Homo sapiens: one gene and its partner. The protein of the gene in region 2 interacts with the protein of the main gene of each other region in a biochemical or structural test. Each region holds a gene or a part of one and is shown on either strand. Other genes may lie near its edges. The genes, in order: SPARC and COL18A1.

Evidence for each region.
Region 1: the proteins of COL18A1 (region 2) and SPARC form a complex in vitro, tested with the Homo sapiens proteins (one study listed by BioGRID).

Annotation. Positions count from the first base shown.
Region 1 is NC_000005.10:151,666,802-151,678,780, forward strand, and holds part of SPARC (SPARC isoform 1 precursor), read right to left. Parts: intron 10,247-11,979; exon of another isoform or gene 10,144-10,246; intron 9,401-10,143; 5' UTR 9,388-9,400; coding exon 9,331-9,387; intron 7,874-9,330; coding exon 7,811-7,873; intron 6,416-7,810; coding exon 6,328-6,415; intron 4,894-6,327; coding exon 4,772-4,893; intron 2,984-4,771; coding exon 2,863-2,983; intron 800-2,862; coding exon 666-799; intron 1-665.
Region 2 is NC_000021.9:45,462,348-45,474,326, reverse strand, and holds part of COL18A1 (collagen alpha-1(XVIII) chain isoform 4 preproprotein), read right to left. Parts: intron 6,086-11,979; coding exon 5,541-6,085; intron 433-5,540; coding exon 346-432; intron 1-345. UniProt on the Homo sapiens protein: Probably plays a major role in determining the retinal structure as well as in the closure of the neural tube.

The DNA of each region.
Region 1 (11,979 bases), on a different chromosome or scaffold from region 2:
ATCACCTGAGGCCAGGAGTTTTGAGACCAGCCTGGCCAACACAGTGAAACTCCATCTCTACTAAAAATACAAAAATTAGCCAGGTGTGGTAGCATGCCTGCAGTCCCAGCTACTCAGGAGGCTGAGGCAGGGGAATCACTTGAACCCAGGAGGTGGAGGTTGCAGTGAACCGAGATCGCACCACTGCACTCCAGCCTGGCAACAGAGTGAGACTTTGCCTCAAAAAAATAAAATAAACATAAATCACCTGGGGAGTATTTAGAATGCAGCTTCCTGGGCCTTGCTTTCTAGAGACACTGTTTCAGTGGCCTGAGATGGGGCCAAGGAATCTGCATTTTATCAGCTTCTTGGGGTAGTTAATATGCTCATTAAAGCTTAAGATCCACAGACTCCAAAGGAAAAAGGAATAGGGCTGTTTGTGTCTCTTTTGTTTAACGTTAGGTTAAGCAAAGGGAGCAGGTCTCTGCTGCAGGACTTCTCAGAGCCTCTAAGATGTTAATGTGCACCACAGCCTCCAAAGGCAGGAAGAGAAGTACGTGTCCTGGTGCTCAGGGGTAAATGCACGCTCCGGAGCAGGATGCCGCCCTGCAGCTGGGGGCCCAGTTCTAGGAATGGGACTGGATCTTCACCAGCACGGGGCCAGCAAGGCCAGAGAGACCACTTACCCGCAGCTTCTGCTTCTCAGTCAGAAGGTTGTTGTCCTCATCCCTCTCATACAGGGTGACCAGGACGTTCTTGAGCCAGTCCCGCATGCGCAGGGGGAATTCGGTCAGCTCAGAGTCCAGGCAAGGGGGGATGTCTAGGTTCCAAACACAAGGGCGGTCAGCACAGACCCTGCCTGGGCCGTGCTCCCCACCCCAGGCCCCCACCCACCCACATACCACCTGCATTGGTGGCCTTGGCACAGTGGCTCAACCTCTCCAGGCCACAGTTTCTTCACAGGACAATGAGCAGAGGAGATTATGTGTGGGAAGAATGCCCTAGAAATGCATTGTGCAAAGGCATGGCTGCTGCTTTCCTCAGCCTAATCTGCTCTGCTCAGGGAAATGGATGGCTCCTGCACCTTACTGGGTGCTGGGCTTTGGGTGTGATCCTAGCTGAGACTGAGCCCATGTTGTTCACGTCAACCACTGGCAGGTGTTTGAAGCTGGGAGGCTGAGGGATCACATCTATCCACAGGCCCAGCTTGGCAGGGAGTGGGGAGTAGAGGACTCAGGAATGTGTAACCACCAGAACCTTCTTAGAAATGATTCCAACCTGGTCTTTGGAACTTAGAATCCCAAATGTTGGACCTGAAGATTTCATCCAAGTCCACACTTTTCTTTTCCTTTTCTTTTCTTTTTTCTTTTTTTCTTCTTTTTTTTTTTTTTAGACAGGGTCTCACTCTGTTGCCCAGGCTGGAGTGCAGTGGCACAATCACGGCTCACTGCAGCCTCAGCCTCCTGGACTCAACCAATCCTCCCTCCTCAGCCTCCTGAGTAGCTGGGACTACAGGCACATGCCACCATACCCAGCTAATTTTTGTATATTTTCCAGAGACAAGGTTTTGCCACGTTGCCCAGACTGGTCTCGAACTCCTGAGCTCAAGTGATCCTCCCTACTCGGCCTCCCAAAGTGCTGGGATTACAGGCGTGAGCCACCGCGCCTGACCCAGGTTCACACTTTGTACTGGACTTATTAGAGGTCAGCATGGAGAGAAGGGACTTGCTCAAGGCCACAATGTCAGAGCCTCATCCAGCATCCAGGGCAGTGTGGTCACCTGGGGGCTTAGGGGTCTGTTCTTCCCTCATCATTGAACCAGGGAAAGTCCCCTCTGTGAGGCTACCTTCATCATCAGCTGGGGTCTGGGAGAGAATATCTGGTGATAAAAACCTTAGGAGTTGAAGTGAGTGGGCAACATGCCTCAGGGAAAGCAAAGCCACTTCATAAAGACTCCTTAAGACAGGCTCTCTAGTCTTGCTGCCCAGGGACTTCCTACCCATGCTTCTTCCCCCAACCCTCCTTTTCTACTCTGTACCTTCTCAATTTCATACCTGGGGTCCCACGAGGAGAACTTTGTTTCCCACCCCCTACATACTTTTCTGCACCCTGTACACCTGAGGTAGGTGAGTGGCTCTCCTCATTGCCATCGGGTGCCAGAATACACAAGACCCACAGTGTGGATGTTGCCTTGGAGGGGGAGCAGGTGTGGTCTTGGGGGTCTCCCATGATAGGGAGGATACTGAACAAGGCACTTGGCCCCACTGAGTTTGCAGCTGGGGTCACTAACCAAAGATCAGACCACACCCTGGCATCCCTCCCCAGACAACTGACTCCCAGGTTTCCAGAAGAGGGTGCTTATCCTCTCTCTTCGGAGGGCAGATAGGAATGTAATGGAGTAAAAGGGTGAAGATATGACAGTACCAAGTAACAGGGCCCAAAGCAAACCGACAGGCATGCCCTTATTTTAAAGCATTCAAAATCAGATATTTTCAAAATATTTTGTAGGCCCAGGTCAAACATCATTTTTGCTTTACAGTGTTGAAGCAAGAAAGATTCAACTTAGCCTGAGAGAAGAAATTCTTCCTCATTAGAGAAATGAAATGCAGTTGTCTCAGATGCTAGTGAGAGACTCCAGAAATCTTCCCTGATGTTGACCTTCCATAATCGCTCAGTCCTTCCCCAGAAAGTGCCCTGAACTCAGAGTTGAGAGGAGCCAACTCATAGACAATTACCTCATTTTATAAATGGGGATGCCGAGACTCAGAAAGGGAGAGAGATTTGCCCAAGATCACCCAGCATGGGGGTGGCAGAGACAGCATCAGTGCCAGCTCAGAGCTCTCTCCCCAAGACAGGAGTCTGGAAGGGCCCAAGGACACTCACATTTGCAAGGCCCGATGTAGTCCAGGTGGAGCTTGTGGCCCTTCTTGGTGCCCTCCAGGGTGCACTTTGTGGCAAAGAAGTGGCAGGAAGAGTCGAAGGTCTTGTTGTCATTGCTGCACACCTGTTGGCAAAGCACAGAGTACCCCCTCCTTCATTCCCAAAGCCCTTCGCTGATACCAATATCCTTGTCCATTTCAGAGATGGGGACACTGAGGGTTAAGCAAGGAATGTCATTAGCCTGAGGTCATATAGTGAGTTAGTGATAGGGCTGGGCCACAAATCCACTTTTTGGGTTCCCAGGTCAATGCTCAGCCCAGGCTGAGAGCCATCGATGGTCTCTGAGCAGAGGCATGACTGAGTCAGTTCTGAGATATAGGGAAAAAAATCCTGGAAGATATTTGAAGAGAAAGTTAAAGACAGGAATGGGAGAGAAACAAGAGTGTTCAAAGAAGAGTTAACATAGCAGGCCTGGAATTGTTATCCTTAGAAAAGGCCTGCTTGTAAGGTCAGCCTGTGGCTGGTGTCTGGGAACTTAGCTGGGAAACAGTTCTCTGCACTGTTGTAAATCTTTCCCTAACTGATAAGAGTGGCTCGCTATGCCTGGACTGTTTGTACAAACAATCTGGTTTATGCTGAACATCTGCTTTCCTTCTGGAAGTGTGAAATTCTGGTGCATGCTAGGCAAAGGGTACCTATGTGACCAGCCTCCAATTAAAACTTTGGGTGCTGAGTCTCTAATGAACTTCCCTGGAAAGAAACATCACTCACATGTGGCTGCCTCTTTGTAGCTGGGGTAAGAATGCACTCTGATGACCCCTCTTGGGAGTCAGTCAGTCTCCACCCAGATTCCTCCAGACTCTGCTAGTGTCTTTTTCCCTTACGATCCAGCTGTATATCCTGAATATGTCGCTGTACTAAACCTTAGGTGTGAGTACAACTGTATGCTGAGCCAATGGAGTCCTAGTCGATCTCTGAACATAGGGGTGGCCAAGCAGAGATGTTGAGGGCTGGACATGCAGTGGCCGTAAGTAGCTGTGTTAGGAGGAGGGGAGCCTGTGTTGAACATCCTGTCCGTACTTATTTAGTATAGCTTATATGTCACTGCAGAGGGAGAACTGATGGGCACTGGTGACTGGGCACTGGGAGTGGGGAGGGGTGAGGAGGAGGAAAATGTTAACAATGATATTAAAATGTGGAGCCCAGAGGCTATGTAGTCTCTGGAGAAACTGAAGATGGAGAAGCCAGATGGGAGGCTGTAGGAATAGTGCTGGCCCTAGATTTGCTGCCATGAGCTAGACTGCCACTAGCATGATGGTAGGCAGGAGCAGGCACTCAAAAAATATTTACTTGGACGGATGGATGGATCCTATTGGAGAGAAGGGACATATTTGAGAGATAATTTAAAATTAAGTAGCATTTATTGGATACTTGTTATGTACCAAACATTTCTGACACATCTCCACAACAGATCTATGAGTTAAGGACTATTTTTATCCTCTCTTTGGATGTGAGAAAACTGAGACCTGAAAAGGTTCGGCAACTTAGCTTAAATCTCACACCTAATAAGTGATGGAGATGAGGTTTGAAGTCAACCTTCAGTTTGGCCCCAGAACCCGTATTTTTGGACCTGATTCTTTGCTGATGCTGTTATACTCTTAGCTCTAAGAGTCTGGCACAGGGCTTGGAACCTGATGGTGCTGTTTAAAGTCTTGCTGGTTGCTGAAAAGATCCAGTGCCAGGCAGAGCACTCTGACTCATCCCCTCTTTCCTGCTGGGACTAGGTCTAGCAAGGGGACTTCTGAGACTGGCACTGCCCCATAGAACCACCAAGCCAACAGTTTCCTGAGCAGACATCCTGTATTCCGAAGTGCCCAATCCCTTCCCCCTGCCCCTGTCTCTCAGCCCTCACCTTCTCAAACTCGCCAATGGGGGCTGGGCAGCTGGTGGGGTCCTGGCACACGCACATGGGGGTGTTGTTCTCATCCAGCTCGCACACCTTGCCGTGTTTGCAGTGGTGGTTCTGGCAGGGATCTGTAGGGCAGAAAGACAAGGGAGTTAGCATCACCTGGACTAGCACATCCACCCCCATCCTACCTGGACAGATCTCAGGGCTGACAGTCCTTGACTGTGGCCCCCACTCTGGGCTTTGGACAGCCCTGAGTCCTGCCTGCTCTTGCACTGAGCCTCACAGTCAACATTTAGGGCAGCAGCTGGTTCAGCCTGGGGATTAGAGGTTTAGCTTGAGATAGAGGTCAGGCACTTCTGGGGGGCTGGAGGCTCAGTCTGGGACCCAGAAACACTAGATACCATATGGCTTTCCTGAAGATTGAAGCAACCATTGTGTTCCTGGGTCTCCATTGAACAATCACAGTGGGGCATTTCTGGATTCCAGAATAAGCTTTCTAGAATGGCTTAGAAAGTCAGCTGTTGACACTGAGCCAGGGAGCTGAGGCCCAACAAAACAGACTTAAGTGGCAGTAAAGGAAAAGGGAGAAGAGCCTCAAAGTCCATGCTGGACAATAGAGCCTGGTAAACACCGGATGAGGTGGGCGTGGAGGCGGGAAGGAACATGACTCAGTAGATGTCCCTCTGTTCAACAGAAACCCTGTGCCCAGCTAGATCAAATACCATTAGCTATCCCCTCAGGATGAGAGCTTAATGTGGCCTTTTCCTCGCAATGCTTTATTTTGGGTGTTTTAATAATCCTTTAGCGGATGCCTACTCAGCTTGTCTGAAAACTTCCCGGCAGCCCTGGGACAAGGGTCTGCCATCTTCATCAGCCCCATATGAGAGATGAGAAACTGAGGCTCCGAGATGCTAAGCAAGCTGGCGTGGAGAAGCCTAGGTTCAAAGCTTGGTTGGACCGCTTCCAAAGTCCTTGCTCTTAACCCCTTGAGTACAAATGCTTTGCACCTAGGGCTGGAGCCAGAGCCCCTAGGTCATTTCTCTCCCAGGGCACTAACGCATGGATAGCATGGTACGGATTATGTCAGGTTGCATTTCCTCAGGACCTCGTTTCCTTGGACTGTGTGAAATAGAATGAGCTTATGAGTGTGCAAGTTCCTGATCTCTTCTCTCAGTTCTACTTCTCTGTGGGGCACGGGCTGATACAGAAGCAATGGGAGATTTCGGTGACCAGATGTGATCAGCGACCTCCGTGGGACTGGGAAACTCAGCTTTGGACTCAGGGCAAAGAGCTATGAGGGGAGAAGCCCATTTCCAGCTGGAGAACTCTCCTTCCTACCACACACATGGATGGCCTGGAAACCGATCTTGCCCAGATCCCAGGGGACTGAGTGCCACAGTTTCCCACTTGTTAAGTCAAAGCCGTGTTTCCTTCATAGCCCACTGAGGACCCCACCCTGCATTTCTGCTGGAAGGAGCCTCATGTAGGCTGTCCTCGTGCCCCAGGCCCAGGCAGCCAAGGGCAGCTTGGATGTGCCAAGTTACAGGGAAGGGACATACTTTCCGCCACCACCTCCTCTTCGGTTTCCTCTGCACCATCATCAAATTCTCCTACTTCCACCTGGACAGGATTAGCTCCCACAGATACCTGGAATTGAGGGAGAAGAATGGGTGAAATGGCCCCACTCCCATCCCAGACCCATAAGGGTAGCTGAAGGGTTCCAGGTCACAGAAAGCACAAACGCAGGGTTGGGAATCCAGATTTAATCTATAGGCCTGCTGTGTTTTGCAGTATGCCTGGGATTCTGTTGAGCTGCCTTAGAGGTCACCAGGGGTGTTAGGGAAAGAGAGTGTGAAAGGAAAATATACCTTGGACCCCAAAATCACTAAGCTAAGGGGAAAAGTCAAGCTGAGAACTGCATAGGACAAACCTGCCTCCTATTCTATGCAGTCATCCCTCTGAGGCTCACCTGAGACAAACGCTTATCTGATTGCTTCCTCTCCCCTATTGTTTATGTAAAAATGCAGATTCACTGAGCCAGATTAAATTGTGTATTCAGGGGAAGGCTGATCAAGGACTCAAAGGAATGCAACCATTTGTCTCTTATCTACTTCTAACCTGGAAGCCCTCACTTCTCAAGTTGTCTTGCCTTAGCGAACTCAACCAATGCACAATTTAGACATGTTGATTGAAGTCTCGTGTCTCCCTAAAATGTATGAAAGCAAACTGTACTCCCGACCACCTTGGACACATGTCTCAGAACTTCCTGAGGCTGTGTCACAGGCACATTCTTAACCTTGGCAAAGTAAACTTTCTAAATTGACTGAGATCTATGTTCACAAGAGGGTGTCAAGCCTCCACCCCTGCCAGCCACACCCAAGCATCTCCCCTTTCCTCTGTGTGTGTGTGTGTGTGTGTGTGTGTGTGTGTGTGTGTGTGCTTGTTTGTTTGTTTGTTTTTGAGATGGAGTCTCATGCTGTCGCCCAGGGTAGAGTACAGTGGCGAGATCTTGGCTAACTGCAACCTCCACCTCCCGGGTTCAAGCGATTCTCCTACCTCAGCCTCCCGAGTAGCTGGGATTACAGGCACCCGCCACCACGCCCAGCTAATTTTTTGTATTTTTAGTAGAGACAGGGTTTCACCATGTTGGCCACACTGGTCTTGAACTCCTGACCTCGTGAATTGCCTGCCTCGGCCTCCCAAAGGATTACAGGGATTACAGGCATGAGCCACCGCACCCGGCCTCCTCTGTTTTACGTTTGCAAAAACTGTGGGTAATCATGGAAGAACAACTGTTGCATAGCTTAAAAAACAAAAATTTTAAGGTCCTGGTCCCCAAACGTAGGGTTCCGTTGAAGGTTTGGGAAGCATTCAGGAGTGTGTCAGGATGTGGGATATACTCAGGGTTTGCATCTATGCTATGTGTGTACAGGGAGACGAATGCCCCACTCTAGCATTGAGACCCACAGCATCCGCCCTAATTTCTCAGGGCACAGATACAGGTAGAGAGGGGCTAAGGGGCTGCGGTCACTGCCCACATACCTCAGTCACCTCTGCCACAGTTTCTTCCACCACCTCTGTCTCATCAGGCAGGGCTTCTTGCTGCTGTTGGAAAGAGAAAGTAGCGTTCAGAGGGGTCAGGAATAAGGCCAGCTTCACCTCCAAAGTGCCTGTGGCCTCGGATACAGGCTAGGGGAGCTTGGAGAGCAGCTTACTGGAGATCCCCAAAGTTGTGCCTCATGGACTGCCATGGTGAGGGACAGAACAAAGAAGAAGCCAGTCATGTGAGCACCGTGGAACACTCAAGCAGCTCCCATTTTATATATTTTATATCCTAGGTGTCTACCTAAGATTTAGCTTGGAAAAGTATTTCTGCTGCTTTGAATTCTTATAAAGTCTGAAAATCACTGATCCAGACCAATTCTTTCACTTTACAGATAGGAAAATTGACATCCAGAGGGGATGACACTGTGAATTTTAACAGATGTCATCATCTTCCTCACAGTGTGATATTATTAGTAGTATTATTAGGCAATTTTTCTTGCCATTTCAACTTGGAGTAGGAGGAAGCAAGAAAACACACAACTTTGAGGCCCTTAGCTGGCTGGAGCTGCTTCAAAACTTAATGCCAACTTTGAGAAACTTTTGCCTCCATCTACCAGCCTGATCAAGATTGCCAGGGTCTGCCATCACTCCCACTTCTTAGTAAACAGAGGATGAGGGGATCACAGGTTGAAAGAAATTGCACTTTTTGCCTGCCCTGTTTCTTCCTCCTCTCCTTGTGAAGGCTTCCAGATGAGCTGTGGATAACTACTCCTGTCCCTGCATGCAATGCTTCGAGGAACTGTCTGTCAATCAAGGGGCCCCACTCTCACCTGGCCAAGAAGCTGGCTCAGGACCCAAGCTCAGCCAGATTGGCTCTCATTTTTTGAATTTATAAAAACCTTCTTGGCACATTCTCTCAAGATGTGAAAATTGCTGGAGTTGATTCATTCAGACAGCAATATCTCAGAGACTGTCCATTAGTTCTTAACTCCCAAAGCCTAGAGCTGCCCTTTTCCAGTCCTCCCCAAGGCCTTTAATATTATAATCTACCTCTGTATCTTCCCCTCCTTCCCCAATTTAGTCAGATTGAACTGTTGCTTACAACCAAACAACCCTCACTGTTTCAGAAGCCAACACATTCCTCTCTCTATAGCTTGAATCTCTTCTAATACCACCCCTACCAGAAATCCCCCACATCCTGTCTCCTGCCTGCTTGAATTCCTCATATGACAAAGAGGTCATTTCCTTCTAAAGCAATCCTAGTTCATTGCTGGGAGGCTCTGACTACTAAGAAGTTTATCTAACATTACATGGAACTCTCTCTTCTCTGATACCTCCACCCAATGGTCCTCATCCCAGTTTTTATCCCGAGCTTCCTAACTTAAGAAAAAAAAAAGACCACTAACTTGAAATGGGGAAGTCCCTGTTCCCTTTCAGCATCCAGGGCTGGCAGGCTCAGAACCCCTGGTGCTAGCGGTAGGAATGAAAACAAGAAGACATGATATTTAGGTACTTACAGGGGCTGCCAAGGCCCTCCCGGCCAGGCAAAGGAGAAAGAAGATCCAGGCCCTCATGGTGCTGGGAACCCTATGGGGAGGAGAGATTGAGAGTTCAGTGAGGGTGAGACTTCCTTATGGAGATTTCCTTCTGAATTCCTGATATGTGCAAGATAATGTTAGATGGTACAAGTTAAATGATAGTGAAAAACATGAGGAGGTTGGTTCCATTTAATATTCTTTCAATTCTGCTTATATGAGAAGAAAGTCTCAGTTTGGTGCCAAGATGTCTTAAACACCTCCTTTATACTCATCTATCTCCTTTTTTAACAAAAAGAGAATAAGCCTCCAGCTCAGAGCTTCCACAGGAAGTTATATCCAGCTGGAACTGAATCAAGTTGTTTTGTTTTTTTTATGTGTTTGTTTTTACAGTTTCCTTCTATTTATGACAAAGGTACACAGAGTTTTTTCCATTTATGGTAGTGATATAAAATCTGCTTTTGTAATACATTTATTAAAGTTTTTGCAAAGTGATTCAACTAAGGTGATGGGCTAACTAGTTAAGTTTGGGCAATGCCAAACCAGATCATCTTCAAGGTCCCTTCAATCCCTGATATTCTAAAATTATTTTTTTCCCTAAACCCAATCTCTCCTCTTCCTCCTCTGTCGCCTCCTCCCCCTCCTTCCTACTCCCTCTGCAATGGGAGAAGTTAATAGGCAGGAACTTCTTGCCAGTTTGGGACAATGAGATCCACATTCTAAAACAAAGAACAATAGTCTTGGAATGTAACCCATGGAAACTTGAGGGTGGCCACATTTTTCTCCATTCTACCCAGAAGAGACAGCACTTCTTTAGGTCCTGTACGGAAACCATCCAGATGCTTCCATGTGTTGCAGAGGGGATGTTAGCTGAGATCTAGAAAATACCTCTGTTCTGGTAACTGTTAAGGCCTCATTCTCTAAATGCCAAGCTCTAGACTCTAATACTCTCATGACTATAAGGGATTTTGGAGCAGTATCTCCTCTGAGGATTCAAAACTAAAATGCTATTCCTAACAGAGGCTCTGTGGTGGAGACATTTCATTTCTTGCACTAACTAAATGGCTTTTCATTCTCAAGTGACTTTAGAAAGTTCTTTCTTTTACTGATCTAAATGTGCCTCCCTCAAACTTTCTGATCTGTCTACCCCATCTCCCCTGCAGCCACAAAGAACAAACCTGCTCTCTCTACCCACAAATAACCTTCCATCAGGAGCAACAGTGGCCATGTCTTCCCTCTTTCTTCTCCCAAAACCTCCCTGTCAGGCTCATCATCCCTTATTTCTTCCAAGACTTCTCAACTGACCAAATGGTGGTGGGAGGTAACCCGGCATCATGGAGAAAAATACTCAGCTTGAAATTAAATGCCAGGGGGTCTTGTTCTACCACAGTAGTATCAAGTCTTTTGGTCTCTCTAGACCTTGGTTCCCCCATCTATCAATTGAAATGGGTAGACTAGGTGAACTTTGAAGTGGCAGCCTCGGTCCTTAAAATGCTCTTAAGACACCCCAAGCACATTCTGGTCTTGACACATATGGTCTCCTCTGGGATCATATGTCTTCACTTGTACTATAGCATTTGGGAAGCAGAAACAGGCAGAGGAAGAGCCCACTTCATAATGGTCCTTTCTTGGGCTTAAAGAGACACAAAACCTCACCCCCTATTGCACAGAGTGAATGAAGTAAAACTAACAGAAATGTAAAGGACCTGGGGGTTTGGTATTGCTTCACAATAACCCCAACTTCCAGAGGAGTCTAGTCTTCCCTTTTGAGGCAGCTTGTGGAATGTTCCTCCCCTCACACAGTTGTTCACTTGTTCCCCAGGCTTAAGTGGAAAAATCTCCCTTCTTGCTTCCCCTTTTGGAAGACGCAAGATAAATAACTCCTGCATGTGGCTTGGGACAAATGGAACAGAAAAGAAAACATCAAGGAAGGACTTGTCTGAGATAGTTTGAGGTTGAAGGATCAAAGTGAAATAGCAGCTAAAACAAAACAAAACAAAAAGTTACCCTGTCTGAGCTATAATGACAGGGAAGTCATGTTATTGAAGAAATAGCCCAGCTAGGACTGGAAATGTAGTAAGCTTCAGATTAGAAAGACAGGAAGACAGACATTTCCCTGAGTCTGCGTCCTTCATATGAGCAGAGTAACCGCGCTCCCCTCTGTGACCAGGGGAAGGTTTCGCTGGGCGGCTCTTCTGTCTGTCCTGCCTCCTCATCTTCCTGAATTCCTTTTCCAGCTGCACACTCACCCTCCCTGCCACCCCCATCCCTGCTGTTGCAGCCAGAAGAGAAAAATAACTCTAAGTCTTATAGTGCTGCTTCATAGTTTCTAAAGCACTGTCACATAACACTGTCTCCTAGAGCCTTCTGACAATGCTGGGAAGTAGGCAGACAGGCATGGAAGGGTTCTTAGTCCCACTGTCCTAATGGGGAATCTGAGGTTGAGAGGGAGGAAGCACTTGTCCAAAGTCATGCAACAATTCAGGCCCTCTCCAAATAGGCAAGCGTTCTCACTCATGGAGTTGGGGTGAGCCTAATAGGAATTACGCTCAGACAAGTGGGAGTGGGGGAGAAATGCAGAGAGACTGTTAAGAACAGAACGCAAAATCTTGGAATACACCTTAAAAGTTT
Region 2 (11,979 bases):
CAAGACAGACACACCACAGAGACACACCACACAAGACACAGAGACACACCACACAGACACAGACACACACACACACTTTGCTGAGCTGCCTCACATCCTCTGTCTCACCAGCTGCCATGGAGGGTGGTTTCTGGTGTTTATATCATGCTTTGTATTTGTTTTTATGGGAAAGTTCAGGGCAAGGAAGGGCTCTGAGGTGCTACAGGAGAGCACAGAAATGGTATCGCAGCTTCCCAGTGCCCCAAGTGGTATATTTTGGGACTTTTCCTGTCATAGACCTTGGCCCTGAACTCCGCGTGCCAGGGATTGAGGGGAGACCCCACCCGTGCCCCAGATGTCACTCACCCCATCTGAGTCATCGCCTTCCTCGTCCAGGCAGTGCATGGGGCTCACCTGGGGGTCCCTGCGCACCTTCAGCTCAGCGATCACCCCCTAAATGCAGACAGAGAAAGGGGTCACCAGCGGTCCTGAGGTGGCAGTGGCAACCCCGGTGCTGCTTGAGCTCCAGATTTCGGGGGGCCCACAAAGGGCAGGAGAGTCTCGGAGAGGGAAGGGGTCTCGGGCAGCCTCCCTGGGGGTGCGGTATGCCTCATGGTAGGAAGAAGTGGTGAGACCCAGGGGCGTCCTGGGCGCTTTCATGTGGAAAGCACCCGGCTGGGCGGAGGCTGCTCCCTCAGACTTGGCTCATCTGAGGCAGCTGATGGGCCACCTGAGGGCTACGGGTTTAGAACCACAGCAGGTGTGGCTCGATCCAAGGCCTGGGAGGGCGGGCAGATTCGAGGGGCTGCAGGTCAAGTCCCCCAACCCCAAGTCCCGGGAGCTTTACGCAAGCACCAGGCGGCCTCATCTCCCGACTCGGACCAACCGAGGTGGCACCATGGCTTTGCTTTCTTTGAACTTCACCTTTTCATCAAAAACAAAACCCAGAAGCCAAGGACAGAAACGCCGCAGATGTAGGGGAGTTTCCTGGATCTCTGCGCCCATTCCGTCCGGACCCAATCTCACTCACTCACCCACCTACCCACCGCTCCCTCTGGCATCTTCAGTCCTGGGCTGAGTGCCAGGGTGCCTGACCCTGCCCTCTCGGGCCCTGGCGCGGCCGGCGGTGCCTGGTGAGATGCAGGCCGGGGATGCTGGGCAAGGACACAGGAGGGCGCAACGTCCTAAGCCTCAAGCGGGTAGCTTGCCTGGTGGGGAGAGGACGCTGGGAGGGGCTTTGACAGGAAAAGGGGCTGCCAGGTGGGGGCTGCGCACAGTACCAGGGGCTCCACTGGCCGCACTGCGGGTTCTGCATCCTGGCCTAGATTTCAGAGCCAAGCGAGGCCAGCTGGAGCCTGGGGCTCCCCATGCCGGCTGGGCCCCCAAAGCCCAGGCAGGTGGCTCAGGAGTGGGGCTGAGCCTGCAGGACGGGGTGTGAGTGCTGAGTGTGTGGGCACATGTGCGTGAGAGCATGCATCTGCATGGACACATGTGTGCAAACATGAGATCACGTATGCACGCGTGTGAGCTCATGCGTGGGGGGGTGTGGACCCTGTGGGCCCCCTGGGTTTCCCACAGGTTTCCCACAAAACGCACCAGCGGTTCTCAGCCTCACAGAGCGCACCAGCGGCTCTCAGCGTCACACTGCGGGGGAGGGCGTTGCCTACAGTGCCCCCAGGTCGGCCAGGGGCAGCACCGTGGGGTCCAGGGTCCACTGTCCACCAGGACCTACTGCGTGGGGGTGGGGCAGCAGCCCAGCAGCTGAGCCTTCACATTCAGGAGCCCCCAGGTCAGGCCCAGGGAGGAGCTGGGGTTGAATTCTAGAAAACTGCGCTTCGGCCGGGCGCAGTGGCTCACGCCTGTAATCCCAGCACTTTGGAAGGCCGAGGCGGGTGGATCACAAGGTCAGGAGATTGAGACCATGGGGAAACCCCGTCTCTACTAATAATACAAAAAATCAGCCTGGCCTGGTGGCGGGCGCCTGTAGTCCCAGCTACTTGGGAGGCTGAGGCAGGAGAATGGCGTGAACCCGGGAGGCAGAGCTTGCAGTGAGCCGCAATCGTGCCACTGCACTCCAGCCTGGGCGACAGAGCGAGACTCCGTCTCAAAAAAAAAACAAAAAAAAAAAACTGCGCTTCTCCACTGGGGCAGCCCGGGCGGGGGGTGCATCTTGGGTGGTCTTGGTGTCGGGGAGGGACTGGGCATTCCTGACACCCGATCCCCACACAGACATGCACTGTCCAGAGAGGCCCGTGAGGCCCTGACCCCCCCACAGGTGGCCACAGCGCTCTCCTGAGAGTGCCCCCGAGGGGCCGACGCCTCCTGCACGGGGCTACAGGGTGCCTGGGTGGGGGGCGACTACAGAGGGCAGAGAAGCTCTGAGCCCGTGGTGGCCGCTGGCTCCGGGGGTGGGGCAGGAGGCGCTAGTGCAAAAGCCACAGGCCCATTGTAAATATTTAAGGGACTTCGGACTGAAAGTTATGAAATCCGGAGACACCTGAAACAGAGCTCACAGGAATTCTGTGAGGGAAGAGCATGTAAAATGCTTCCCGACACGCTGCAGCCTCAGCGCCCTGGAAATCAGGACACAGCTGGAAATCAGGACACAGCTGGAAATCAGGACACAGCTGGAAATGACGTTCAAGGCAACGGCAGCAGCTGGGAGGGGTGCATGATTTCCCGGGAGACGACCACTGACAAACCTGACTCAAGAAAGTGAACCTGAAAAGACCAACAACGCCCAAGGACTCTTAGGACGAGGAACACAACCAATGCTCCGGAGGGCTCTGTTGGACCCAGCTGCGGCCGGGGGTCCCAGGCACCATCTGTGGCAGCGCCAGGGTCGATGCAGTCTTGTGGAGAGGCTGAGGAGGAGGAAGCCTCGGTTTCCTCCCTGCTCCCAAAGCTCTGTGCTTGTTTCTGCCAAAAATTATGAGTCACACAACTTGAATGTTTCTTTCCCAAGTATCTCAATTCAGAAGTCTGAGAAAATCTTGTGCTGAACAAGTCTGTCTTCTTTTCTACCACACAAGCATGCTTCTCCTCTCCCCAGCTGGAATCTCATCTAAGACCCAAAGAGAAAGTTCCTGACACCTGAGGCCTGCAGGGACCTGACACAGAGATCAACCAACACAGCCCTCAGCACACGGCCCATAGCGCGCCACCCACGCCCAGCAGCACACGGCCTGCTGCACGCCACCCACGCCCAGCAGCACAAGGCCCGTAGTGCGCCACCCAGGCCCAGCAGCACACGGCCCGTAGCGCGCCACCCAGGCCCAGCAGCACAAGGCCCGTAGCGCGCCACCCACACCCAGCAGCACAAGCCCGTAGCACGCCACCCAGGCCCAGCAGCACGAAGCCTGTAGCGCGCCACCCACGCCCAGCAGCACACGGCCTGCTGCACGCCACCCACGCCCAGCAGGGCCCCAGCCCAGGGCCAGACCCAGGGCCCTCTAGCTCCCTCCTGTTCCAGCTCTCTGACCTTCCAAGGTTTCACTGGGCTGTTGTAAGTCATGGTGTCTTCTCCAGGCCAGATTTAACCACATAAACACATCAAATCCCAGCTGGGTGCAGTGGCTCACGCCTGTAATCCCAGCACTTTGAGAGGCTTAGGCGGGTGGATCACCTGAGGTCGGGAGTTCGAGACCAGCCTGACCAATATGGTGAAACCCCGTCTCTACTAAAAATACAAAAATTAGCTAGGCATGGTGGCAGGTGCCTGTAATCCCAGCTACTTGGGAGGCTGAGGCAGAAGAATCGCATGAACCTGGGAGGCAGAGGTTGCAGTGAGCCGAGATCACCCCATTGCACTCCAGCCTGAGCAACAGAGCGAGATTCCATCTAAAAAAAAAAAAACAAAAAAAAAACCCACAAAAAAACCACACATCCAATCCCAATAGTCAAAAAAAAAAAAAAAAAAAAAGACAAGGTAAAAAGGCAAATGACATGGTAGAAATAAAATCTGCAGCATGCAAAACCAAAGAGAAGTTTCTTTTAAAGATAAGGAGTTTGTATAAATCACTGAGAGTTGGGCCCATTGAAAACCACAAAGAACATAAACCGGTCAGTCACAAAGGAAGAAATACAAACAGACAATAAACAAGTGACAAAATGAAAGTCTATCTTCACAGTCCAAGAAATGCAAAATTAAACACCCAGACCCCCTCTTCCTACACACGGGACTTCGCTGATGAGGAGGCCCTCACCGCAGGGCGGTGGCCCGGCTCTCCCTAGCACCATCGGGGCACAGCTGTGCACCCACGTACCGAGCTCTCGGCACTCAGCCGCTTTTCCTAACAGTGTTAAAGATGTACGGCACTTGTGGGCCACTTTATTCCACCAAGAAACGGCTGGGGACTCACACAACAAATTGCCTCTCACTGGAGGGGGTGACTCTGACTTCTTTCCCGGTAATCATGTTTGTGATCAAGAGGAAAACAAAGAGGCCCAGTTTGGTGTCAACGTCCTAGCGGCTCCTGAGCTCTGAGGGTTAAAAGTTCCTGCCAAAGGTGAAAAGTCAGCTTTCAGAACCCCCAGACACCAGGACTTAGAACAACTTCAAACAAACAGCCCTTGTCTGGGCAATAATTAACCTTCTGTCCCCTGCGGCCCGCCAGGGCAGGGGCGTCCAGCTGCAGGCCAGCTTGAATGCTAGAATTCAGGGACTTGTGAGACAGTGCCAGCTGAGGTCACCCACGTGGCTGTTCCCAGCCAAAGGTTCCCAGAAATGCAGGGGCTTTGGACACAGACCCCACATGGGTTTAGGGATCTGTCCACCCCCCCAACCCCAAGAAATGAAGGCCCACTGGAGGGACTTCCCGGAGACTCAGGTGGAGGCGGCCACGTGCGTTCACCGCTGGGGGACTCCCACCACGTGCTCCAAAGTGGAGTCTCACAGGCGTGGGTTGCTGCACCCTTTGTTAAAGGTGCTGACCTGCAGGGCCGCCCTGAGCCCCTGGTCCCAGCGGGTGTGCAGCTACCACAGGAGAACCCTGCTGGGATCAACACCCTGCTGCCGCCAGCTTTGGATCGTTCATCGTTTTCAACAAGGACCCCAGCTTTCATTCTGCATGGGGCCACGAGGCGTGTGGCTGGGCCTGGACTCGGTCCCCACTTACCCGACCGGCCGGTCAGAGGCCGGGAGCCCCACTTCACCACAGGGCTTGGCACAGGCCTGGGGGTGTCTCTGGGTCACGGGGTCACGGCTGGGGTGGATGTCTAGTTACAAAGTCGTTCAAAGAGGGCCCTCCTGGGCTGGGCCTCGGGGTCTCAGAGAAACCATGGAAGCCCAGGGCTACCCTTCCTGGGGGCGCAGGAGCCAGAGAGCCAAGAAAGTGAATGCCACCCCAGCCAGGCCGGCCAAGAACCCGGGAGGCCTGCGCCGGAGGCCAGGGCTGAGCAGCCAAGAACCCAGGAGGCCTGCGCTGGAGGCCCGGGCTGACCACAGCTGGGGTGGGGGCTCTCCTCTTCCGGCCACAGCTCCGTCCCTGTCCCAGTGGCCACCCCCACCCCACCCCATCCCAGCTGCTCCAGTCCCCCAGCGACGGCACAGTGGGGGTTACCTGGAACTTGTCAGGGTCCGCTCCCCCCGCCTGAGCCACGAAGAGCCCGGCGCCAGGCTCCAGCTCCAGGCCCCGTGAGGACCGAGCAAGCGGCATTCTCTGGAACTCCTCACAGTCCACGTAGAGGGCCACAAAGCCACCTGCCACACTGAGGGCTAAGTGTGTCCACTGGCCGACGAAGGCGGGGAGCCGGAAGCTGGCGGCTGTGTGGGTCTGGCCTGCACCTGGTTCTGTGTAGAGCAGGGAGATGTCCTGGTGCCCGTCCTGCACCCCAGAGAGCTTCACGCCCAGCAAGACCATGGCCTGCGCCGAGTCCGTGATGGCGAACAGCACCCCTGGGCCCTCTGTGGCTGGCCGGATGTGGAACAGCAGTGAGAAGTCACGGAAGAAGAGGCTGGGGAAGTGGTACCGGGCCACTTGGCCACTGTTGGCATCTGGCCCAAAGACGTAGGCCAGCCCGACGTCGGGGTCATCCGTCTGGGTGACCTGCTGGGGCGGGGGGTCCCCAAGGAGCTGCAGCAGCCCCACCTCCTCGCTGATGCGCTCTGCAAAAAGAAAGACAGCTGGTGAGGTGGCTGTGCAGGACGGAACCAGGGGCCACCGACGCGGCCTGGAGAGGCAGCCAGGCAGGGGCAGAAAGGAGAAACTGAGTCTGGGAGGGCTCTCCACGTGCCTGGCAGCCTGCCCTGATCCCCTGGGCTCAGCCACCCAACGGCCACCCTGGTTCACTCATTCCCAAACGACAGGCAGGCTCCATGCAGAAACCTGTGTGCAGGGGACATGGTGTCTGCAGGAGACATGGTGTCTGCACGGGACATGGTGTCCACAGGCCCCCTTCCATGCTTTGAGCAGGGATGGGCACAGCAGACATGGTGTCCACAGGCTTCCCCTTCCATGCTTTGAGCATTGATGGGCAGAGCCAGTGGGGAGAAGGGACCAGGGACTGGCCGGCACCCCCGCTGGGGCAAGGAGCTGTGAGGGGCTGGGGCTGGCAGCCTTCCCGCCCGGCCCTGTGCCCTGCCCGCCCACTCTGACCCTGCTGGAGCAGCCCAGGCCGGCACCCCAGCCTGGCCTCCACTGTGAAGCCACAGTTCCACCACAGGGAAGGAGGGAGGCTGACCCCACACCCCAGTGTTCTTCGAAGCCTCGGCTACGGGGCGTCGCCCAGAGTGGCTGCCTCAGCTGGGGTTCCACGTGGCATCTGAGGACACGGTGCGGGATTTCACCCAGCGCTGTCGGTCACCGGCTCACCTGCTGGGCCAGGTGCTTCATGTGGCAAGGACAAGCTGTATCTCCCCATCCCCCCCATGCTGATTCCCCTCGGGGCCACAATCACCCCTTGGAGGGGCTGCATGCCTGACGTACCTGCCAACGTGCCACAGTCTCCCCACCAGCCCCGCTGCTCCGTGCAAATGCCCCACAGCGCCGGGTGACTCACTCCACTCATTCCTGCCCAGGCGGAGCTTGACTTCACTTCGACTCAGTAGCCCAGGGTCAGAAGGAGCCCTGTCCATCCCTCGCCCAGGGAGCCCAAGCCAGGACGCAGCCCCGGTGCCCAGAGTTCTCACACCTCGTTTCCTGCCCACGGGAGGGGGGCAGCACCCACTCAAGGGCAGACCCTGCTCAGAGTGACTTCCCAGCACACCTGCCGTGCCAGGCAGAGCCCGGGCTTTGCAGCCACAGTCTGGGCCAGGGGCAGAGGGGTCCCAACGGGCTGAGCCTGGGCTCTGGGGGCCAGCGGTCACATCCCCCTCAGACAGAGGCCGCCGTCCACCCAGATGGCAGCTGTTACAATGATCGTCCATCCAGATGGCAGCTGTTACAATGATCCTTTTTCTCATAAGAAGTGCCTGGTCCCACATGTCCAAGCTGGGGCTGTGATAAGATCAGGAAACAGGACTCGGCCTGGGGGCCAGAGGCCGTGCCAGCCACCCAGCTGCCCCCGCGTTCACCTTGGAGAAACCTCCCACCACCCTTCCTAGAACATTCCGTCATTGGGAAAGCAAGATGCGGCAGCTGCCACCTTCCTGGGCTGGAGGGTACCAGCACGCTACACCGGCGGCCCCAGGGACCCCAGTGACAGCAACGCCCTTTCCAAAGCTGTCCCGTCTCCTCTCCACGAAGCTCCTGGGGGCTCCCTTCAGAAGCCAGCTTCCAAATGCCCGGCCCTAAGATGCTGGATGGGCAGAGAATGGCGCAGCCTCCACTCCCCGAGGTACAGGCCCAGCTGTCTCAGATGTCCTGGAATCAAACAGCAAATGCCTGAACCCCATTTCGAGAGCTCAGCCTTCCCGGGTGCGAGAGCTCAGCCTTCCCGGGTGCGAGAGCTCAACCTTCCTGGGTATGGTGGGGCGGCCCCTCCTGCTGGACCACCTCCCTTTGGATCAAGGTGCTTGCTTCTTTAAAGACCATTTCCCCCTCAGGAATCAGGCCAGCCAGAAGTGTGGATGGTTCTGGAGGCCTGTGTGTGTTAACAGAGGCCCCTTTAAATATGCCCAGGACAGACAGTGCAGCCAGCATCCTCCCCGCAGGAGAGCAGCGGGTACCTCTGGCTGGGACTCTCCGCTGTTCTCACACCAGTGTGGAACGTCCCCGCCCCTCCCCTTGGGTCCCTTATCTTAGGGGACCGGGGACGTCCATCCCTTCTGCAGTGGCAGCCTCTGAGCCAAAGCGCCCTCTCCCAGAAGCCGGACTTTCCAGGACCCTCACTCCCAGCCTCACCCTGACACGGCCTGACTGGGGGTCTCCTGTGAGTCCCATGCTCGGCTTTGTCTGACACCTCCCAGGACAAGACCGTCCCTTCTCCCCAAACTGGGCTCTCCACCAAGAGCCGCGTTCACCCACGGGGGAGTGGGCTCCAGACAGGCCAGTCCTCGAGGGCCACACCCAATGTCCTGCATCCCTCACGGCCACCGTGGCTCCGAAGAAAAGGGCAAACCCCTCAGAGACCCTCAGACACGTGCACTCCACGGACGCCCGCCTGTGCTCAGCATCAGGTGCTCCAGACACTCCCCAGAACCAGCCCAGCCTGACTCCTCGGGGCACAGGGCCTGGAGTCTCTGCTGCCCCTTTGAAGGGCTCCTGAGGACAAGATCCAAGGCTGCCTGGCCAGCCCCCCGCCCTCCAGCACAGCCCCCTCCAGTCCTGCAGAGCCAGGGCCGCTCGTGCCCACATGGAGTGCTCTCAGCCCACTTTCCAGGGAAAAGAGAAAATAACCACCTCAGTAAGACTCACACAGAGCTTCCGGAACCTGATCCAGAGCTTGAAGAGTGCGCCACCATCATCACTCCATCACACCATAGCACTTACGCAGTGAAGTGCCCGGGGGGACATCTTGGCATCAAAGAAAAACGGCCTCAGAACAAACACCTCCACCAAATCCCAAGGCTGCAGAGCCCCCACGGAAGGCTAAAAACAACCTAAGAAACGGGCCCCTGTCCCCGGGTGGAGACTTCCTGTTGACACTCGGACACGTTTACAACATTCAATCTCTCCACCGTCAGCGCTGACCCAAAACCCACGCCAGGCACAGGTGGGGTGGCTCAGCTGGTGTCTGATAAACAAAGGCGAGGCTGTGCGATGAACCCGCCAGTCGGGGCTGAGCAGGTGTCTGCAGGGTCATCTGTTATACAGAGAAGCAGAAATACCTGCGAGTGCTTCAGTCAGGAAGGGCTGAGGAAAAGACCAGAACAACACGAAGAGCAGAGCATCTCCCTGGAGTTATGGAGACTCCTGAGATGCAGGATAAAGGAAAGAGGAACTTTCAGACACAGGGCAATCCCATTAATGCAAAGTAAGACTCCCATGCATATGTACACATGTGCAGCCGTGCACATGGACAAACTGTGGTGGGCAGAGCCATGGCCCCAAGGATGTCCACGGCACAACAGCTGGAACCCACAAGCGTAATTTTACGTGGCAAGGGGATGCTGCAGCTGGGACTCAGGCTGTGGACCTGGAGATGGGAGATGATCCACTTCTAACCACACAAAGCCTTAAAATCGAAGGACAAAAGATGGCACCATGAGGACTTGTCCAACACCGTTGGCTTTGAAGGGGGAAGAAGGGGCTTTGAGCGAAGGGAAGCGGCAGCCTCTAGAGGCTGGAAAAGTCAAGAAAACAGATTCTCCTCCAGAGTCCCAGAGGGACCCAGCCCTGACAACACCTTGGTTTCAGCCCAGTGAACTGGTTTCAGACTCTGACCTCCAAAACTGAAAGGTAAGACAGCTGTGTTGGTTTAAGCCACTGAATTTGTGGCAATTTCTTACAGTCGCCAATAGGAAGCTACATACCTATATGCAAATTGGCACAAACCCATGGGGGGATGGACACGGTGCCCCCACCTGACCACTGCAGGTGGCCGTGGTTAGTGGGACTCAGGAGCTCTGTTCCACCCTCTCATGTGTGGCTGGAGTCTTGCCGAGGGCCTGCCTTATCTAAGAGGGTCTTTTTTGGCCCCAGGTTGGGCTGTTGACTTCTGGGACAGACTCCAGCCCACCAGGAAGATCTCATCCCCAAAATCCCATCCTGGGAAGAGGAAGAGATGAAAACGGGAGGCTTTGGAGCTCCCACCGAGGGACTACGGGATCCACCTCTGCCCCAGTGCCTGGGCACTGTGCTACTCCCGAGGGCTGGGCAACCTGGAAATGTGGTCACTCTGCCCCCGCAGATGTGTGTCTCTTCCTGAGAGCTAGAGGCTTCCATCATGGTTTGGCTCCAGCCCAGTTCTCAAAGCTCCAGCCTCTGAGCTCTGGACCCAGCCACAGTGCCCATAGGGAGTTTCTCCCCGCATTTGGCATAGCTGGGTGGCATCCAGGCTAGACACCTGCACATGATATAACAATGATGATGCCTCAAGACTTGATTTCTTTCCTTTTCTTTTTTTTTTTTAGATGGAGTTTCGCTCTTGTTGCCCAGGCTGGAGTACAGTGGTGCAATCTCAGCTCACCACAACCTCCACCTCCCAGGTTCAAGCAGTTCTCCTGCCTCAGCATCCCGAGTAGCTAGGATTACAGGCATGCACCACCATACCCAGCTAATTTTGTATTGTTAGTAGAGATGGGGTTTCTCCGTGTTGGTCAGGCTGGTCTCCAACTCCCGACCTCAGGCGATCCGCATGCCTCGGCATCCCAAAGTGCTGGGATTACAGACGTGAGCCACCATGCCTGGCCAAGACTTGATTTCTTGACAGAAAGAAACGTGTTTGAAAATGATTCTGGAGTACTCTGGTAAATGGCAGATGGAAAGCGCCAGGAATCCATCTCCCCAACTAATTAACAAGTGCATGGGCAGAATTTGTCTTAGAACTCTTTTGGAACTCTGGAGTCTACTGAAAGCTTGCAATGTCCACAGGAAGGCTTGGACGGTAACGGGTGGTTAATTTAGCTAAACCCCAGCTCTTGGCACAATAGCAGCCACACATCCATCCTCCACCCCCATTCCCATAGCAGGTGCCATGCACGAGTTCCTGGAGCAGCAGCCACACAGCTTGTGGGAAACAGGACGGCAAAAAGGACCCTGTCCTGCAGACATCGAGAACCTGTGCTCTGATCAGGTTGCCTGGGATCACAGATGTGCAGACAGGGAGGTGGGGCCATTGTTTTACACTCCCTCTGTTGTTGCAAGCTGCCCCTTCCAGCTGAAGTGACTTGAAGGGGATTTAGAGGGCTGGCACTGTTTTTTCTCCCTCATTTTTATCTTATTCCTCCTTTGGGAGCCAAACATGAAAGAACGGGACATTGAAAAACAGCAGCATGTAAGAGGAAAATTAGAAAGTGGCTGCACACACCCAGGGAAAGGGACAGGCTCAGAAAAGACCTGAGAAGACCTGAAGTTCACACCTAAGGGAGATTTCTGGCACAGACACAAAACATTTTTTAAAAAGTAACAAAAAAAAGCGAACGCTGGTGAAGGGCAAAATTCAAGAGCCACATTACTGAGTTCAAATGTTCACTTTTTAACACAAAATCACAAGGCACACAAAGCAATAAGAAAATATAGCACATTCAAAGGAGAAAAATAAATTAACAGAAGCTGTCTCTGCAAAAGACCTGATGGCAGATCTACTAGACAAAGACTTTAAAATGACTGTCTTAAAGATGCTCAAAGAACTACAGGAAGGTGTGGAGAAAGTCAAGAAAGTGATGTATGAACAACATGGAAATATCAATATAAAAACCTTGAAAGAAACCAGAAAGAAATTACAGAACTGAAAAGTACAATAGCTGAAATTGAAAACATCACTAGAGGAATCTGAAGGTGATTTGAGCAGACAAAAGAATAAATTAATGAGCTTGAAGATAAGATAATGGAAATTTTCAAAGACAAAAGATGAAAGAAAGGTGAAAAGAGCCTAAGGGGCTTGTGGCCACCATCAAGAGACAAGGAAGCATGCATGCCGTGGAAGCTGCAAACAGAAGAGAAAAAGAAAGGTGCAGAG